Homo sapiens: one gene and its partner. The protein of the gene in region 2 interacts with the protein of the main gene of each other region in a pairwise test. Each region holds a gene or a part of one and is shown on either strand. Other genes may lie near its edges. The genes, in order: HES7 and OSTF1.

The links.
Region 1: the proteins of OSTF1 (region 2) and HES7 interact in a two-hybrid assay, tested with the Homo sapiens proteins (one large-scale study listed by BioGRID).

Annotation. Positions count from the first base shown.
Region 1 is NC_000017.11:8,121,270-8,125,548, reverse strand, and holds the start of HES7 (transcription factor HES-7), read left to right. Parts: upstream 1-1,442; 5' UTR 1,443-1,464; coding exon 1,465-1,506; exon of another isoform or gene 1,507-2,284; coding exon of another isoform or gene 2,285-2,422; coding exon 2,423-2,518; intron 2,519-2,663; coding exon of another isoform or gene 2,664-3,118; coding exon 3,119-3,206; intron 3,207-3,511; coding exon 3,512-3,978; 3' UTR 3,979-4,279. UniProt on the Homo sapiens protein: Transcriptional repressor. Represses transcription from both N box- and E box-containing promoters. May with HES1, cooperatively regulate somite formation in the presomitic mesoderm (PSM).
Region 2 is NC_000009.12:75,091,367-75,095,173, reverse strand, and holds part of OSTF1 (osteoclast-stimulating factor 1), read right to left. Parts: intron 1-3,807.

The DNA of each region.
Region 1 (4,279 bases), on a different chromosome or scaffold from region 2:
GGTGCGAACAGCCGGGGGCCCCCAGCCTCGCGTGCAGGTGAGAAAAATTCAGCCCGAGCCCAGGTTCCCAAGGAGGGGGGCGGCGGGGGCTGATGGGGACACACATTTGCGTTCCCATTTGGCTGAAGGACGGAGAGGTGGGATGTGCTGGGGGCCCTGATCCCAAATGGGAGCCCCCTCCTCAAGGTCTGTGCCTCTCCCGGCTCGGGCTATGATGGCAAGAAAGGCTTCGTGACAAAACCAAGGTGCGGAGGGCCGTTGGGAGGGCTTGAAGGAAACCCCATTGGTCTCTGATTTCACAGCTGTCTTCCGTCTCGGTCTGCAACCCTGTCTTTCCGTGTCTTTATCCCTGGCAACCTGGCTGTTCCCTTCAGTTTCTGATTTATCTTCTCAGACACTTTGTCCTGAAGCCCTCGAGTGGTCAGGCATCGTTCTGCGGAGGGTCATGCTCTTGGTTTGAGGTGGGTGTTGATCCCTTTTTTGTACCCCTTGCTTTCCCCTTAGTAAACTGCCTGCTCCCTGCTACCCTACAGTCACCAGGGGCCTCCAGAAGCAAGCAATGCGGGCACACTTGCGTGAGGTGTCCTATCAGCCACACTCCTGAATCTCCTATGACTAGTTTTGAATCAAATACTTGTACTGTAAGTGGAAAGACCTCTCCACTCATACCTATGTTTCAAAGACTTGCTCCCTCTGCCTTGAAGATCCTCCTCAGTCCAGCCATCCTTAAGGAGACCTTTTCCCGGAGCACCTACTTCACTGGGCTTCTGTAATAGCTACTTGGTGTCACATGGTCTTTTCCATTAGATCCTGCAGGGATAAGCTGGGTCTCTCCTGCGTATCTCACTATGACTCGCCCGAGCCTAGACAAGTGCCCTGTCCGCAGAGTGGGCGCGCAGATGTTCGCGGACTTGAATGTAACTGGCTTAGATAGAAGAGAGCGCCTCTCCAACCTCCCGGCAGAGCTTCGGTTGAGTCGGACAGATTCACCCAGCGCACTCGGGTTGCTCCCTGTCTCGACTAGGAAGCGAACTTCGGAGATGATGTATAAAATTCAGCCTGGGGGCTGAGAGGTGCTAACTTCTATTTCAGGGTTAGTGAGGGTACAGTAAGCCTCCCAGAAAGCTGCAATTCTGGAGGAACTCTGAATTTCATCCCCAAGCGAGCTCTGCCCCAATAGCCTCCTCCTTTCAGCTGGGTCCCGCCTCCTTATACAGCCTTACGGTCTGTAAACCAGCCAGTGCCCCCATTCACCCCTCACTTCCCGCACTCCCAGGCCAGTTTCTCTCCTTCCCCTCCCCCCTTCACTCCTCCTCTTTCCGGGAGCCTCGTGCCGGGTCCTAGAGGGGCAGAATCTGGATGTCGAAGGGGGCGGGGTCGGGTCCTATCCCTCCTACCCTTGGGCCGCGGAATATAAGGCTCCAGGCGAGCAGGGAACCGGTCCACACAGGGTCCGGAGGAGCAATGGTCACCCGGGATCGAGCTGAGAATAGGGACGGCCCCAAGGTGAGAGGCGGGAGGGGAGGGAGCAGAGGTCCCTGGTTTGGCTAGGGGACTGGGCCCCTGACGCCGTCGGTCTGGAGAGAGGCTGGGGACGCAGGGGTGGAAGGGGAGCGGTGCTCCAGAACTCCAGGAGCCAGAAGCTGGAGAGGAAGCTGCAAAATATGAAGAAGGGGACAGGGGTCAGAGCCAGACCTGAGTGGGCGGCGGGAACATAGGACTAGGGGCCTCGGTAATGGGTGTCGGCACCTTGTGGCCTGGGGAGGGGGCCGGTGTTGGAGTAAAATAAGCAATTAGAGGGCAGAGCCAAGGGAGGAGGGTGGGAACGAAAAGAGAAGAGGATAGGCACTTGCTCCACTCTGGCTGTGAGCCGGGCGGGGCTGGCCCAAGGCGGTCTTGTACAGAAGGTCCCGGGGCGTTGGTTCCAGAGGCCCCAGACTGGTGGAAGATTTTAGGAGAACCGTGGAGAAGGTGAAGGCCTGGAGGGTTTTGAGGGAAAAGAGGCGGCGCGGTCGCGCTAGGTATCTCCCTTTCTATACTCAGGGCCGCCAGGTCTGAGCCCGGCACCGTGCGGCGCACGTGCGTGCGCGCAGAGAGTCCCCAAAGTTCTCCACTGAGACAAAGAGAAACTGCACCAGACGGAGACGTAGAGAGAAAAGAGGAGGAGAGACACAGAGAGGGGAGGAGGGAGGACGAGACTGAGAGAGGAGAATGCGAAGATCCGGGGAGGCGAGCTACAGAAACTGATCTAGGGGCATTGGGAGGGGGAGCGGAGAGGGATCGAATGGGGCCGGCCCTAGGCAATCTGGGGTCTTGTGGCCGGGGTGGAAGCCGGGCTCTCCCAGCGGCGGGATCCGACGCCGGGGCGGCCGCACTGAGTCTCGGTCTGGTCGGCCCGCTCTCCTTTTCTCGCTGGTCGCAGATGCTCAAGCCGCTTGTGGAGAAGCGGCGCCGGGACCGCATCAACCGCAGCCTGGAAGAGCTGAGGCTGCTGCTGCTGGAGCGGACCCGGGACCAGGTCAGTCCCTCCGCTAGCCCTAGGTCCCCAAGCTTCCCGTTTCCGCGTCCCAGGGCTTCCCACTGGGGTGGGGACACAAGCTTGGTTGGCAACCCTGGCCCCAAGGCATCCTCACCCGAGTCCCGCCTTTGGAATTCCATCCCAGACCCCCACTCGCTCTCAGAACGCGATCTTCTTCGCCACCCCTCGGGTCTGTAAGTTTCACGCCTGGTTCTGTAAATTTCGCTCCCGGGGTCGGTCAGTTTCACCCTTTGGGTCTCTAAGTGTCCGGTTCCCCCTCCCCCACAGCCAGCCTCTGATGAGCCAGCCTCTGTTATGTCGGGTGGTTAATTTCATTCCCTGGGTTGCGGTTTCAAATCTCCTCCTCACGCGTTGGGCATTGGTTCCAACCCCTAGGATTGGACAGTTTCGTCTCAGGGTGGGCCAGGACTTTCCTTGGTCATCTCCACTCCGCATTTGGTCGCGCGTTCTGTGGGCAGTGCGCAAATGCGATCGGGGGCACCACCAGCTCCCGCATCCGTCCCTCCCTTCTTCCCCCTGCCACTTTCCCCCTTTCTCCCCACCCCTTTCTGTCTCTGCGCCCTCCCCTCCCGTCTGTAGAACCTCCGGAACCCGAAGCTGGAGAAAGCGGAGATATTGGAGTTCGCCGTGGGCTACTTGAGGGAGCGAAGCCGGGTGGAGCCCCCGGGTACAGCGCGGGGGTGGGGCAGCGGAGGGAGGGAGGGGGGACGCCAGGAGGCTCCGGCCGGGGCAGAGTGGGCGGGCCCTGCGGTGGATGGTGGGCTTGGGGAGTGGCCGGTTCTGCTCCGAGGCGAGGTTAATAACACCCGCGCGTGTCTGTCTCTGTGTCTCCCTCATTTTCTCCCTCTTTCCGTCCATCTGGCTTCCTGTCTCTGTGCGCCTGTCCGGCCTTGGTATCTCTGCGCCCCGCCCCTTCCCTCACCCCTGCCGGGCCCCTGCCCTGCCCACCTGTGCTCCCGCCGGCCGCACCAGCCGCCGCGGCTCCAGGGGTTCCCCGGTCCCCAGTCCAGGACGCCGAGGCGCTCGCCAGCTGCTACTTGTCCGGTTTCCGCGAGTGCCTGCTTCGCTTGGCGGCCTTCGCGCACGACGCCAGCCCGGCCGCCCGCGCCCAGCTCTTCTCCGCGCTGCACGGCTATCTGCGCCCCAAACCGCCCCGGCCCAAGCCGGTAGATCCGAGGCCTCCAGCGCCGCGCCCATCCCTGGACCCCGCCGCACCGGCCCTTGGCCCTGCGCTGCACCAGCGCCCCCCAGTGCACCAGGGCCACCCTAGCCCGCGCTGCGCATGGTCCCCATCCCTCTGCTCCCCGCGCGCCGGGGATTCTGGCGCGCCGGCGCCCCTCACCGGACTGCTGCCGCCGCCACCGCCGCCTCACAGACAAGACGGGGCGCCCAAGGCCCCGCTGCCCCCGCCGCCCGCTTTCTGGAGACCTTGGCCCTGAGCCTTGGGGGGTGGTGGGGGCGGGGTCTAGGGGTGGGGTAGAGACTCCAGCCCGAGGGCAGCAGAGGGACCCGGGCGTCCGGGCGAGCAGGTGTTGGGGAGGGCAGTGGGGCGCGCGGGCTCAGCGCGCGGGTGAGATGTGGTCTATATTAGAGTATCTATATAAATATATATTTCCCTGGTTCCTGTCCCTTTTCCCTGCCCCAACTTCTCCCTTGCGTCTAGGATTGTACTCTCTCTGCCCCTCAGCCCAGTCCCAGTCCCTTCCCGAGTCCCTAGTGCATGGAATAAAGTGGTTATTA
Region 2 (3,807 bases):
ATAACAAAAGATTGAAAACAATCCAGAAGTACGTTAATTAGGGTCTGGTTAAATGAGCTCAGCAGAATACTATGTAGTTATTTAAAAGAACCAGGAAGTTCTCCTGGTTCTAATATTTGTGTTGTATTGTTTGTTTGTTTATTTGAGACAGGGTCTCGCTCTGTCACCCAGGCTGGAGTGCAGTGGCACGATCTTGGCCTCCCAGGCTCAAGTGATCCTCCCACCTCAGTCTCCTAAGTAGCAGGGACTACAAACACGCACCACCAAGCCCAGCTAATTTTTTCATATTTGTTGTACAGAAAAGGTTTCACCATGTTGCCCAGGCTGGTCTCAAACTCCTAGGCTCAAGCAATCTGCCTGCCTGGGCCTCCCAAAGTGCCAGGATTACAGGTGTGAACCACTGTGCCTGGCCTGTACATTTTTCTGAAACTCCTTTAATTTGATAAGAGAATCTTGACACCTCACTCATATCAGCCCACTGAAAGGTGTCCCTGTATCATTTTTTTTTTAATGTAGTCTTTCCCTGTCCATTAAGCAAGTGAGGACAACTTTGGCAATGGGTTCTGTTATGCCCTGAGGTATAAGGTGTGTATTAGAAAATCTCACTGCACTAGTCACGTAAGTCAAATTGTGGGAATGCTGAAACGCCAAGGGAGGGGACCCCAGTATTTCCAGAAGGGAGGAATGCTTATCAGAAGCACATAACCTCCAGCCTTTGCTACTTTGTAGTAAAGCTACAAGAAAAGCCCAATCACAGTCTCTGAGTCCACCCCCACCTTCTTTCAGGGAAAAAAAAAAAAACCCACCTTTTTTTTGTATCAAAGCGTTTTACATTATCTGTCATTCATAACGATTTAGTGGCTGTGCAGTTACAAAGAAATAAAAGACTGTTCCACTCTCAAAAAGTGCATAGTTTAATGCTCTAATACGGATCCATTGAAAGAGGGCAGTTACACAAACCAAATACCAATAATACAACTGCATAAGCTAATAAAATGACTGTCCAACAAAAGCAGGTCCAACCCAATAACATCTCTGGCAGGTTTCTCTGCTCATATGCATGGACTCAATTAAAGCTTCTGTTCCACTTCCAGGTCACACCAACCACTCACTAGCTTTGAGATCTTAGATAGTTTACTTGACCTCATTAAGTACTACTTCATCCATAAAACAGGGATATGAGGACCCACCCACCTGATAGGAAAGTCAGAATAATTAAAGGAGACAGAGCATACACAGTGCTGGGTGCAGTGCCTGACATATGGGGCCAAATATATGTTAACCATTCCCATCATCATCATCATTGTGAAATTTTCAAGATGTTTCTCAGGCTTTATTCTGCCAACAGGTATAAAAAGTATCAAGTTTATAAAAGAAGACTATTCACGTGCATATTTCACCTCACTTTTGATTAATTCCTTTGTTGGGGTAAAAAATACATAAAAATTAAGTTCATTTTAGATAAAAACCTTTTTTTCTCAAAAATGTTATTTAAGCAGCATGCGTGTGATGTCTTTTAAGTTTTATGATGTTTTTACTCTGAATAACAAAAAAACCTGAAACACTGACATTTGCTTCTTCAAAGTTCCATGAATTTATTTTCACAAGGCACATGAAATATTTATGCTTTACTTTCACCACCAAAATCAATAAGCCATTTGGAAAAAATGGCCAAGGTCAGACACCAGGTTTCCAACTACAATAGATAGTTACCAAACCTGCTTAGAATGAGATGATTCTACAGCCCAAATCTCATTCAGTATCCTTTGGCCCATTCTTACTCTCAGAATAAAATATTTTTAAAAAGATTTTACAAGAACAAAAGTTCTGTTTTCTACACTTCTACACTCTAACAAGCCAGACAGATTCACGCTAATTGAACTGCAAGGCTTCTGAGAGTGGCTGAAAACAACATAAATGCTATATGTGTAAAACTAAGAGGTTGTACTCATTCAGAAAAAGGAAAGGAGGGTCTCAGCCAGGTTTGGTGGTGAGCATCTATAATTCCAGATACTCTGGAAGCTCAGGAAGGAAGAAGACTGCTTGAGCACAGGAGAGCAAGACCAGCCTGGTCAACATAGCAAAATCCCATCTCCAAAAAAAAAAAAAGAAAGAAAGAAAGAGAGAGAGAGAAAGAAAGAAAGAAAGAGGGTATCATAAAGAATGAGCTGAAGACCACGAAATTGCAACACATCTTAGTAGAGTACCATGGTGGCACAGATAACAGTTAAGGGAGAAAGTTTCAATGACAGACCTTGTGTGGCCAAAAGTGATTCTACAGAAACAAAATCAGTAAGCAAGGAAAGGTCAAACTGCGACAGAATTGATTTTTCAAGCAGAATGCAGGCAATACCGTATAGCCTTTTGGAAACATATGCCAACCAACAGCAAGACTTTTCAAACGGAAGCTGAGACGCTGTTCTGAGGGTAATTGTTTTTATTTTCTTTTTTGAAATGAAATGGATGTGAAGAAGAAAGAAACCTGAAAGAATATTCAACCAAATGTAAATAGTGATTATCAGTAGATGACAGGGATGATTCCTATATTTTAGTTATATATTTATTGTTTACCTTTTTCTAAATTTTCTAAAAATAAAAAAATTATATTTTTACTTACAAGCTTTTTTAAAAAAAACAAAATGAATGAGATCAGCCATCCACTTGTAAATATGGGATACTCTAGGTAATATCTGTAGATACATACGTCTTCCCCATTAGACTCAGGACCCTCGTGAATGACACCATAGATTATTGTTCCTGGGAACCCCAGTGTCTAGCACAGGGCCTAATATATGAGCTACATTTATTAAGAAACATTTGTTTAGCAAATGAATTCTGGATATGGCCAAAAACCCAAACAAGGTAACCCTGATCTATCCTCCAGATGGTACAAAAATGGCCAGGGTCTCCCACTAGCATCTGCCCGGGACTTCCCTGGGCAGCCTCCTTCCACAAATCGGCCCCCTGTTGGGGATGTGCTGATCAGCCAGAAAGATGCTATTAGCCTGCATTATAGCTTAATGTCCCTTGTTTTTAATATCTTCCAGCAAGTCCTTTGTCCTTACTCACCTAGCTCCTTTCCTTTTAGTATTGTCTACTGAATTGAGCCATGCTGTTTTGCCCAAATCTTGCTCTGAAAGAAGCTGTAAGAAACATGGCTAGGATGTTCTGTCTTGTATTTCTGCTAGAGATATCCAGGCCACTCCAATACTTTAAGAGAACCCACAGGAAAATCTGTCTCAGATCTCAATGCCATTAAAATAACTACTTTTCAGAGTAAGTGACACATTTTAATTTTATGAGCACTATGAATCTTGAGATTTTTCTCTCTGCTTGCAGCTGAGAGCCAAATCTACAGTGACCTTACTACACATGCAGGTCTGTCTGTAAGCTAGCTTTTCCTCTTGTTTCATCTTACTATTCTTCCCTTCCTCTAGATGACCATGCTTTATCTTTACTTTTTCCTCTCTCTCAGATCATGTGTATTTTTAGAAGTCCTTTTGGAATGAGGCAAGGTTTAAACAAACCAAAAAATTAAATACAACCCCAAAGCCCCCAATCCCATGCTGTCTTTGGAGATTTTTATCCATGCAGCTTGCCTGCAGGACAAGAAAGTAAAGCTCCACACCACTCTCCTTGCTGTCAACCAGGGGCTGACCTTTATGTGCATTTGTGACAAGAAAGTCTGTAGACCAGAGGCCCCTCCCTTTCGACTTCCTGACCACCAGCTCTAAAATACACATTTGACCGCCAGTGTGAATGGAGCACTATGACTTAAGGCAGAATAGCAAATGGTTAAGAGTGCAG